2 separate regions of the Homo sapiens genome follow, and region 1 is linked to region 2. The links come from fine-mapping of genetic effects on gene expression. A gene starts in region 2. The other region holds a variant in brackets. All regions are shown on one strand. Distances are between the middles of the regions. Region 1 overlaps LOC105373195 (a long non-coding RNA gene). Region 2 holds the start of WDR45 (WD repeat domain 45).

The links.
Region 1: its variant is fine-mapped to the expression of WDR45 in sigmoid colon (GTEx, PIP above 0.99). The same link has a PIP of 0.9 or more in esophagus mucosa and spleen.

What each region holds. Positions count from the first base shown.
Region 1 is chrX:49,142,237-49,147,603 of GRCh38, reverse strand. LOC105373195 (a long non-coding RNA gene) reads left to right here. Exons shown (of 3, transcript XR_007068230.1): 3 at 2,085-5,367. Among named protein-coding and RNA genes, the nearest start is that of MAGIX, 18 kb to the left of the region's middle. The variant G/A (reference allele first, on the strand shown) is at 2,750.
Region 2 is chrX:49,077,080-49,082,385 of GRCh38, reverse strand. It overlaps WDR45 (WD repeat domain 45), which reads left to right and starts at 2,499. Exons shown (of 11, transcript NM_001029896.2): 1 at 2,499-2,635; 2 at 4,274-4,345; 3 at 4,475-4,549; 4 at 4,639-4,743. The coding sequence starts at 4,291. It also overlaps the pseudogene RNU4-52P. RefSeq lists silencers at 1,730-1,799, 2,042-2,336 and enhancers at 2,042-2,336, 2,048-2,548, 3,998-5,197.

The DNA.
Region 1 (5,367 bases), 65 kb before region 2:
AAGTCCTGTCCGACCCAACATCAAAGGATTCATGGCAAGAAACAGTGCCAGTGGCCCCTCCTTTCACCAAGAAAGAAGGCCTCCCACTCCTGAGGCCACTGTGCCCAAGCTTCCACAAGGCCTACATACCCCTAGGCCACCTAGAGTAGAAAAGAAAGGATGCAAGACCTCAGGAGAAACTCCTCACTTGGTAGCCCATTTGAGGCCTAAAACTGGGATACAAATGCCCCTGAGAGAGCAACGGTATACTGGGGTAAACGAGGACGGGCATATGGTGGAAAGGCGTGCCTTTGTGTACCAACCCTCCACCTCTGCCAATCTCCTCAATTGGAAAAACAATACCCCATCCTATACTGAAAAGCCTCAGGCTATAATTGATTTGCTCCAAACTATTATCCAGACCCACAACCCTACTTGGGCTGATTGCCACCAGTTGCTCATGTGCCTGTTTAACACGGATGAACGGCGAAGGGTGCTCCAAGCAGCGACTAAGTGGCTAGAGGAACATGTTCCGGCTGATTACAAAAACCCCCAAGAGTATGTGATGGCCCAGTTACCAGGAACAGACCCCCAGTGGGACCCAAATGAAAGACAGGGTATGCAAAGGCTAAACTGGTAGAGGGAAGCCCTCCTGGAAGGGTTAAAGAAAGGAGCTCAGAAGGCCACCAATATAAATAAAATATCTGAGGTTATTCAAGGAAAGGAAGAGAGTCCAGCACAATTTTACGAGAGACTATGTGAGGCCTATTGTATGTATACTCCCTTTGATCCCAACAACCCTGAAAACCAGCGCATGATTAACATGGCTTTAGTTAGTCAAAGTGCAGAAGACATTAGAAGAAAACTACATAAGCAGGCTGGGTTTGCAGGCATGAACACTTCACAGTTATTGGAGATAGCCAACCAGGTGTTTGTGAATAGAGATGCTGTAAGCCGCAGAGAGAACTGCAGAGAGAGCGAACGCCAAGCCCAGCGAAACGCCGACCTGCTAGCCACAGCAATAGAGGGGTCCCCCCCGAAGGGGCGAGAAAGGGGGGCCCCAGGAAAAATACCCAGTCCGGCCATCCACGCTTGCAGCGTAACCAGTGTGCTTACTGTAAGGAAATGGGATGTTGGAAGGACAAGTGCCCCCAGTTGAAAGGGAAACAAGGTGACTGAGCAGGAGGCCTCAGACAAGGACGAAAGGGCCTTGTTTAATCTGGCAGAAGGGTTACTGGACTGAGGGGGACTAGGCTCATGTGCACCCAAAGAGCCCATGGTCAGAATGACAGTCGGGGGCAAGGACATTGAGTTTCTTGTCGATACTGGTGCTGAACATCCAGTAGTAACCACCCTGGTCGCCCCCTTATCCAAAAAGACTATTGATATAATCAGAACCACGGGGGTTTCGGCAAAGCAAGCTTTCTGTTTGCCCTGGACCTGCACTGTCGGGGGACATGAGGTAATTCACCAGTTCCTGTACATGCCTGACTGCCCCTTGCCTTTACTGGGAAGGGACCTACTTAGCAAGCTGAGAGCCACTATCTCTTTTACAAAGCATGGCTCTTTACAGCTAAAGTTACCTGGAAAGGGAGTCATCATGGCCCTTATGGTTCCTCGGGAGGAGGAATGGAGACTCTTCTTAGCTGAGCCAGGCCAAGAGATAGGACCAGCTCTGGCTAAGCGGTGGCCAAGGGTGTGGGAGGAAGACAACCCGCCAGGGTTGGCAATCAACCAGGCCCCCATACTAATAGAAGTTAAGCCTGGGGCCCAGCTGGTCAGGCAAAAGCAGTACCTGGTCCCCAGAGAAGCCCTTGAGGGCATCCGGGTCCATCTCAAGCATCTGAGGGCCTTTGGAATTATAGTCCTTTGTCAGTCTCCATGGAACACTCCCCTCCTACCTGTTCCCAAGCTGAGGACCAAGGACTACAGGCCAGTACAGGATTTGCATATGGTCAACCAAGCAAAGTGACTTTGCATCCAACCCATACACATTGTTGGGGTTGCTGCCAGCTGAGGACAGCTGGTTCACCTGCTTGGACCTAAAAAATGCTTTCTTTAGCATCAGACTATCTCCTGAGAGCCAAAAACTGTTTGCCTTTCAGTGGGAGGATCTGGAGTCAGCTGTCACCACTCAGTACACTTGGACCCGGCTCCCCCAAGGGTTCAAGAACTCCCCCACCATCTTCGGGGAGGCACTGGCTCGAGACCTCCAGAAAATTCCCACCAGAGACCTAGGCTTCGTGCTGCTCCAGTACGTTGACAACTTCCTGCTGGGACACCCCATGGCAGTCATGTGTGCCAAGGGAATGGATACCCTGCTCTGGCACCTGGAGGACTATAGGTATAAGGTGTCCAAGAAGGAAGCTCAGATCTGCAGATAGCAGGTATGTTACCTGGGATTTACTATCCGACAGGGAGAGCACAGCCTGGGATCAGAAAGAAAGCAAGTCATCTGCAACCTGCTGGAGCCTAAGACCAGAAGGCAGGTGAGAGAATTCTTAGGAGCTGTAGGGTTCTGCAGATTGTGGATCCCAAACTTTGCAGTATTGGCTAAGCCCCTGTACGGAGTCACAAAGTGAGGAGACACAGAACTTTTCAAATGGGGGTCCCAACAGCAATGAGCTTTTCATGAGTTAAAAGAGAAACTCATGTCGGCCCCAGCCCTGGGGCTACCTGACCTAACAAAACCTTTCACACTGTATGTGTCAGAGAGAGAAAAAATGGCCATTGGAGTTTTAATCCAGATGGTGGGGCCCTGGCCAAGACC[G/A]GTAGCCTACCTCTCCAAAGAGCTAGATGGAGTTTCTAAGGCAAGGTCTGAAAGATGCGAGATGTAGAAGTACCAGCCTAACAACTTTTCAAGTGACTCTTGGCCTAGGTGGGTGGTCTCATGCACAGCCAGTATGACTGCGGCTCCTAGCAGTTGTGGCATGGCTATTCTTCCATCCGACAACTGGATCCATCCCTCTTCTATCACCTGCCCTCCCTCTGCCTGGAGAAAGTCCAGGCAGGATGAATTGCTGGTGAATTATCTCATGCCCCCTGACAGTGCAGGTCTGGGGCAAACAGAAAGCTTGCTTTGCCGAAACCCCCGTGGCTCCAATTATATCAATAGTCTTTTTGGATAAGGGGGCGACTGGGGTGGTTACTACTGAATGTTCAGCACCAGTATCGACAAGAATTATCTGTCGATAATTGAGCCTGGCCCCTGTGCTTAAGAGCCTTGGCAGCAACTGCCCTGCTAGCACTAGAGGCAGATAAGCTACCTCTTGCCCTAACTTTATGTTTAGGGCAAAACCTAAACATAAAGGCCCCCTAGCTGGGCACGGTGGTTCACGCTTGTAATACCAGCACTTTGGGAGGCTGAGGCGGGCGGGTCATGAGGTCAGGAGATCGAGATCATCCTGGCTAACACGGTGAAACCCCATCTCTACTAAAAATACAGAAAAATTAGCCGGGCATGGTGGCGGGCGCCTGTAGTCCCAGCTACTCGGGAGGCTGAGGCAGGAGAATGGCGTGATCCCGGGAGGCAGAGCTTGCAGTGAGCCAAGATCGCACCACTGCACTCCAGCCTGGGCAACAGAGTGAGACTCCATCTCAAAAAAAAGAAAAAACATAAAGGCCTCCCCATGCTGTGGTAACACTAATGAACACCAAAGGACGTAACTGGCTAACGAATGCTAGACTAACTAGGTACCAAAGCTTGCTCTGTGAGAATCCCCGCATAACCATTGAAGTTTGCAACACCCTGAACCCCGCCACCTTGCTCCTGGTATCAGAGAGCCAAGTTGAACATAACTGTGTAGAGGTGTTGCAGTCAGTTTATTCTAGCAGGCCCGACCTCCGAGACCATCCTTGGACAACAGTAGACTGGGAGCTGTACGTGGACGGGAGCAGCTTTGTCGACCCACAAGAAGAGAGGTGTGTAGGATATGGTAATCCTGGATGCTGTCATTGAAGCCAAATCGTTGCCCTAGGGCACTTCAGCCCGCAAGACCAAACTCATTGCTTTAATTCTGGCCTTTGAGCTAAGTGAAGGTAAGACTGTAAACATTTACACTGACTCTTGGTATGCCTTTTTAACTCTCCAACTGCGTGGGGCATTCTACAAGGAAAAAGCCCTGTTGAACGCTGGGAGAAAAGACATAAAGTATCAGCAAGAGATCCTGCAATTATTAGAGGCAGTGTGGAAGCCCCAAAAGGTGGCTCATGCACTGCAGAGGACACCAGCGAGCTTCTACCTCGATTGCCTTGGGGAACCCCCAAGCTGACTCAGAGGCTCGAAAAGCAGCATCCACCCCCTACCAGGCATCAGTCACAGCCCCCTGCTCCCTCAGGCACCTGACCTTGTACCTACTTATTCTAAAGAGAAGGACTTTCTCCAGGCAGAGGGAGGGCAGGTGATAGAAGAGGGATGGATCCAGTTATCGGATGGAAGAATAGCTGTGCCACAACTGCTAGGAGCCGCAGTCATACTGGCTGTGCATGAGACCACCCACCTAGGCCAAGAGTCACTTGAAAAGTTGTTAGGCTGGTACTTCTACATCTTGCATCTTTCAGCCCTTGCCAAAACAGTGGCGCAGCAGTGTGTCACCTTCTGGCAGCACAATGCTAGGCAAGGTCTAACCATCCCCGCCAGCATACAAGCTTATGGAGCAGCCCCTTTTGAAGATCTCCAAGTAGACTTCACCAAGATGCCCAAATGTGGAGGTAACAAGTATTTGCTAGTTCTAGTGTGTACATACTCTGGGTGGGTGGAGGCCTATCCAACACGGACCGAGAAAGCTCGTGAAGTAACCCATGTGCTTCTCCGAGATCTCATCCCTAGGTTTGGACTGCCCTTACAAATCAGCTCAGACAACGGGCCGGCATTTGTGGCTGACTTGTTACAGAAGACAGCAAAGGTATTGGGGATCACATGGAAACTACATACCACCTACTGACCACAAAGTTCCGGAAAGGTGAAGCAGATGAATCGCACTATCGGAAATAGTTTAGGGAAAGTGTGTCAAGAAACAGGATTAAAGTGGGTACAAGCTCTCCCTATGGTATTATTTAAGATTAGATGTACCCCTTCTAGAAGAACAGGATATTCCCCTTATGAAATATTATATCATAGGCCCCCTCCCATACTACGGGGACTCCCAGGCACTCCTCGAGAGCTAGGTGAAATTGCGTTACAGCGACAGCTACAGGCTTTAGGGAAAATTACACAATTTCAGCCTGGGTAAATGAGAGGTGCCCCGGCAGCTTATTCTCCCCAGTTCACCCTTTCTCCCCAGGTGATCAGGTGTGGATCAAGGATTGGAACATAGGCTCCTTGCGGCCACGGTGGAAAGGACCCCAGACCATCATCTTGACCACTCCCACAGCCGTAAAGATAGAGGG
Region 2 (5,306 bases):
CCTAGGCAGCCATCAGTTGGGGAAGGGCTGAACAATGCTACATAATATCATGAACCAGTTAAAAAGGATGAGTTAAAAAGATGTTCTTATATATTAATATATGAAAAAACAGAAGCATCAAAACAATACTTCAAAAAAAGTAAAGGGGGGATTTCATCAATGTGAAACCCTGATTGTATTAAAAGTATGAGATTTCTCTGTATTTTTTCTTTAATATTCAGTCTTCATAGACTGTCAAAAATTGCCAATGCCGACTATATTGCAAGTCTTCGGGGCGGGGTATTGGGAAGTTTCCAATTAGCAATATCCACACCTTGGCTAAACCTCATTGGCTATGATACTGCCACTGCAAAAAGCATATTTCTTTTTTTTCAAGAATATTCTTTTTTTTTTTTTTTTTTTGGAGACAGGGTTTCCCTCTGTTGCCCAGGCTGGAGTGCAGTGGCGCGATCTTGGCTCACTGCAACCTCTGCCTTCTGGGTTCCAATGATTCTCCTGCCTCAGCCTCCCAAGTAGGGGACTTACAGGTGCCCGCCACCACGCCCGGCTAATTTTTTGTATTTTAGTAGAGAGGAGGTTTCACCGTGTTACCCAGGGTGGTCTCAAACCCCTGAGCTCAGGCAATCCACCTGCCTCGGCCTCCCAAATTGCTGGGATTACAGGCATGCACCACCATGCCCAGCCCTTTTTTTTTGAGACGGGAATTTCGCTCGTCTCCCAGGCTGGAGTGCAATGGCAGGATCTGGGCTTGCTGCAACCTCCGCCTCCTAGGTTTAAGTGGTTCTCCTGCCTCAGCCTCCCCAGTAGCTAGGATTACAGGCGCGTGTCACCACGCCCGGCTTTTTTTTTTTTTTTCGAGACAGAGTCTCACTCTATTACCCAGGCTGGAGTGCAGTGGTGCGATCTCTGCTCACTGCAACCTCCTCCTCCTGGCTTCAAGTGATTCTCCTGCCTCAGCCTCCCGAGTAGCTGGGACTACAGGCACGCACCACCATGCCTGGCTAACTTTTTGTATTTTTAGTAGAGAGGGGGTTTCACCATGCTGGCCAGGCTGATCTCGAACTCCTGACCTCATGATCTGCCTGCTTCGGCCTCCCAAAGTGCTGGGATTACAGGCGTGAGCCACCGCGCCCAGCCTATTTATTATTTCTTAATGTAAAGTTTAATTAAAAATCCTTCCAGCCGGGCGCAGTGGCTCACGCCTGTAATCCCAACACTTTGGGGGGCCGAGGCAGGCGGATCACCTGAGGTCAGGAGTTCAAGACCAGACTGATCAACAGGGAGAAACCCGGTCTCTACTAAAAATACAAAATTAGCTGGGCGTGGTGGCACATGCCTGTAATCCCAGCTACTTGGGAGGCTGGGGAGGCTGAGGCAGAAGAATCCCTTGAACCCGGGAGGCGGAGGTTGTGGTGAGCCAAGATCGCGCTAATTGCACTCCAGCCTGGGCAAAAAGAGCCAAACTCTGTTAATCAAAAAAAAAAAAAAAAAAAAAAATTCCTTCCAGTATGCATATAATTTGGGGCCTTTTTTTAAAAGCTTTATCATAGGTAGGACCTCTTTTTTTTTTTTTTTTTAACCCAAAGCATTCATACCTTTTACTATCAAAAAGCTATTTTGTATTTTGTAAAAATAAAAGCAGAGGCCGGGCGTGGTAGCTTAAGCCTGTAATCCCAGCACTTTGGGAGGCCGAGGTGGGTGGATAACCTGAGGTCAAGAGTTCGAGACCAGCCTGACCAACATGGTGAAACCCCGTCTCTACTAAAAATACAAAAATTAGATGGGCGTGGTGGCGCACGCCTGCAGTCCCAGCTACTCCGGAGGCTGAGGCAGGATAACCGTTTGAACCCGGGAGGCGGAGGTTGCAGTGAGCCGAGATCGCGCCACTGCACTCCAGCCTGGGAGACAGAGCGAGACTCTGTCTCAGAAAACAAAACTAAACAAAACACAAAAGACAAAACTCAGAGCTGGCGGGGTTGGGGGGACAGGGTGGGGAGAAAGAAAGCGAAATCTGTTCCTTGGCTTCCCGGAGCCAAGGAGGTTTCTCCACTTTCAAGGTCTCCAGGTCCGCCCCCGCCTGTAACCCCCAGCGCCGCCCCTCTGGAAGCCTGGGAGGACTGTGTGTTGCGAACCGGGGCGGCTACTCTCGGCCGCCGCGGAGGTCCGCGTCTTGTTAGCAGGGAAGGTTTACTCCCCCATTGTGGGTGACCAAGGGGCTGAGGGCTTGGCCGGTTTCGCTTTGCTGGGGGCAAGGCACGCTCTCTCTCCCCACCCTTCCGGGTTCCCTCAGACAGTCTCGGCCTTGAGGAACCCCCTTCGCCTCCGGTCCCCCAGCCAACCTTCCTCCGCTCCCCGCGCCCTCCCCGGAGAACCCCACTGTCACTCGCGATGCTCCGAAGACCCGGGAACTAGGCGAGGAAGGCGGTGGCCGCCTTTTTCCAGCTGGGGTGAGTCATTTCCTGCGACAGGCTCCCTCCCCCGGAAGTAGGGCCTGATGTAAACACCCGAGCCGGGCTCCAAGGCCCGGGAGGTCAGAAAACCGGGCCGCGGGCGGCACCGACAGCTGGGGCCCGGGTCAGGGACACGCGGAGGTCAGGCCGGTGAAGGCGGCAGGAAGCTGGAGCACGATCCCAGGGTTGGTTGGGTCTGGGGGAGGCTGGAAGTCTTTCGAGTAGGGGTCTAAGGCAGAGGTCTTGAGTGGGTGCTGGCGTTGGAAGGAGCATGCGGCTGGTCTTGGGAGAGGGGCGAGGCATCCCGGACAGAGTCTTGGAATGGAGGTGCAAAAAAGGGGTGTTGAAAGTTGGAGCTGTCCAGAGAATAACTCTAAGGCAGAGCTGTCCAAAGAAAGAGCATGAGGCATTCCAGTGGAGGGTGTAACTGAAAGAAAGGAAGGAGATTTGGACTCTTGGAGGATGGGGGAGGGAGTATGTCTGGCCAGAGTTATTGGGGAGTTGAGGATTTGAAGGGAAGTTGGGGGCTCTATGGCAGTAATCTTAGTAGGGGACTGCGCAGGCATCTTAGGGGTTGAGGTTCTCCTAGGTAGGAGTTTTGGGTGGTTTGTTTTGGGCAAGGGTCTTAGAAGGCAAGGGTGCCCTGGGGCGGGGTCTTGGATAGGGGTCTAGAGGGGGAATCTTAGGAGGATGGGGGGGGTTCCTGGGGTTGGGTCCAGGCCAGGTTATGTTGTAGTCAAGGACAGCAGAACACAAGGAAGGAGATGTCCCAGGGGTGGAAAATTTAGAGTGCTAGGGGGAATCCTAGGGTAGAGTCCCCAGGGCATAAGCCAATCTAAGGGAATGTCTAGGCTGGCCCTGAAGGGTAGTTACCAAGGCATGAGAAGGGGTCATCCCAAGGTAGGCATCCTGAAGGAGTTTGGGGAAGCCGGTTGAGGGGGAAAGGTGTGAGAGGACTCTGGGGTGGTCAAATAGGTTGGGGTACAGTTAGAAGGGTATGAGCAGAGGAGTTCCTGGGGATGGCAGACCAAGCATAGCAGTCCCAGGGCCAAGTCAGGGAGGTACAAGAAGTGCATCTCCTAGCCCACTTTTGTCTATTTATTGAGAGAGTCCGGTGCTAGGTCAGGTTTGAAGATGAGAAATGGGTTGGGAGTGGTTCCAGGCCATGTCTGGCATTGGGATCAAGATTGGCTGGCGGTGGGGAGGAGATATCACGGGGGCACCCCCTATCACATTACTTCCTGACAAGTCAGTGAGGGCCAGCATGTAAAGAGGAGGTGTGGGGTCCACGTCAGTGTGGGCCTGGAGCTTGCCAAACCTGAAAGAAGGAGGGTTCCTGGCCATGTTGTTTGGGATCTTGGGAGCTTAGAGCAGAGACCCTGGGACTCTCTGTTTTTATCTTTTTCTTCCCCCCGAGACGGAGTCTCGCTCTGTCACCCAGGCTGGAATGCAATGGCTCGATTTCGGCTCACTGCCATCTCAGCCTCTCGGGTTCAAGCAATTCTCCTGCCTCAGCCTCCTGAGTAGCTGGGATTATAGGTGCCCCCCACCACACCCGGCTAACTTTTGTATTTTTATTAGAGACGGGATTTCACCATGTTAGCCAGGCTGATCTCAAACTCCTGACCTCAGGTGATCCACCCGCCTTGGCCTCCCAAAGTGCTGGGATTACAGGCATAAGCCACCACGCCTGGCCTGTTTTTATCTTTTTTGCAGTCACTCCAGAGTCAGTAGTTAGCAGAGTAGGAGGAGGAAATCAGGTGAGGCAGAACTTGGAGGGGAGATTCCAGGACTCTTCTCATCTTTATCCCATTTGTATGCAGAGGAACAATCCTGCACCATGACTCAACAGCCACTTCGAGGAGTGACCAGCCTGCGTTTCAACCAAGACCAAAGTGAGAGAGGATTGGGCCTGTACCCTTGTGGGAGGAAGCGAGGAAAAGAGGGGTCAGAAGTGGGCCATGGGCCCCCAGCTTCCTACCTGGGCATTCTTTAAGGCAGTCTGGATTCCTTCCATCCCCCAGGCTGCTTTTGCTGCGCCATGGAGACAGGTGTGCGCATCTACAACGTGGAGCCCTTGATGGAGAAGGGGCATCTGGGTGAGCTGTTGGCAGGGGAGGGGCAATGGGCAGAAGAGCTGGGCTGGGCGTTGGCTCCCACCTCCACTGACACCCTGGTCCCTGTCCAGACCACGAGCAGGTGGGCAGCATGGGCTTGGTGGAGATGCTGCACCGCTCCAACCTTCTGGCCTTGGTGGGCGGTGGTAGTAGTCCCAAGTTCTCAGAGATCTCAGGTAAGTGCCCTCATCCTGCCCTTTGGCCCAGATTTCTCGGATTCCTGGCCTCCCACAGGCACCCCAAGGTACTGGCAGATGAAGACGTCAGAGTACTTCAGAGTCACACAGAGAGGAGGCCTACAGCTTGGAAGTCATGGATCTTATAGCTTGAGAAGCTTGGTGCTTTGTTTTCATTTTAAAAATTCTGATTGAGTGCCTCCTGTGTGCCATGCCCTAGAGCACTTACTGTGAGCCTGGAACTGCCCTAAGCACTTTACGTTTATTAACTCATTTAATCCTCACAGTAACTCTATGGGGTAGGAAGGATCATTATCCCCATCTTTACCGATGAGGAAACTGAGGCCCAGTGCAGTTAAGTGACTCATCCAAGGTCACACAAGCAATAGGTTTTAAAATCTTGGAGCCGTCTTCCCAATACCCCCTTGGCTTGAGCCTCAAGTGCCATCTTACTTTAAGGGTTTTTCTTGATGATCCCATCTGGACAAGGCAGGAGTTGCCCTAGGTGAGTCACAGAGCCCTAGGATTCCTCACGGAAATCTCCAGGGTGCATGGACTAGGAC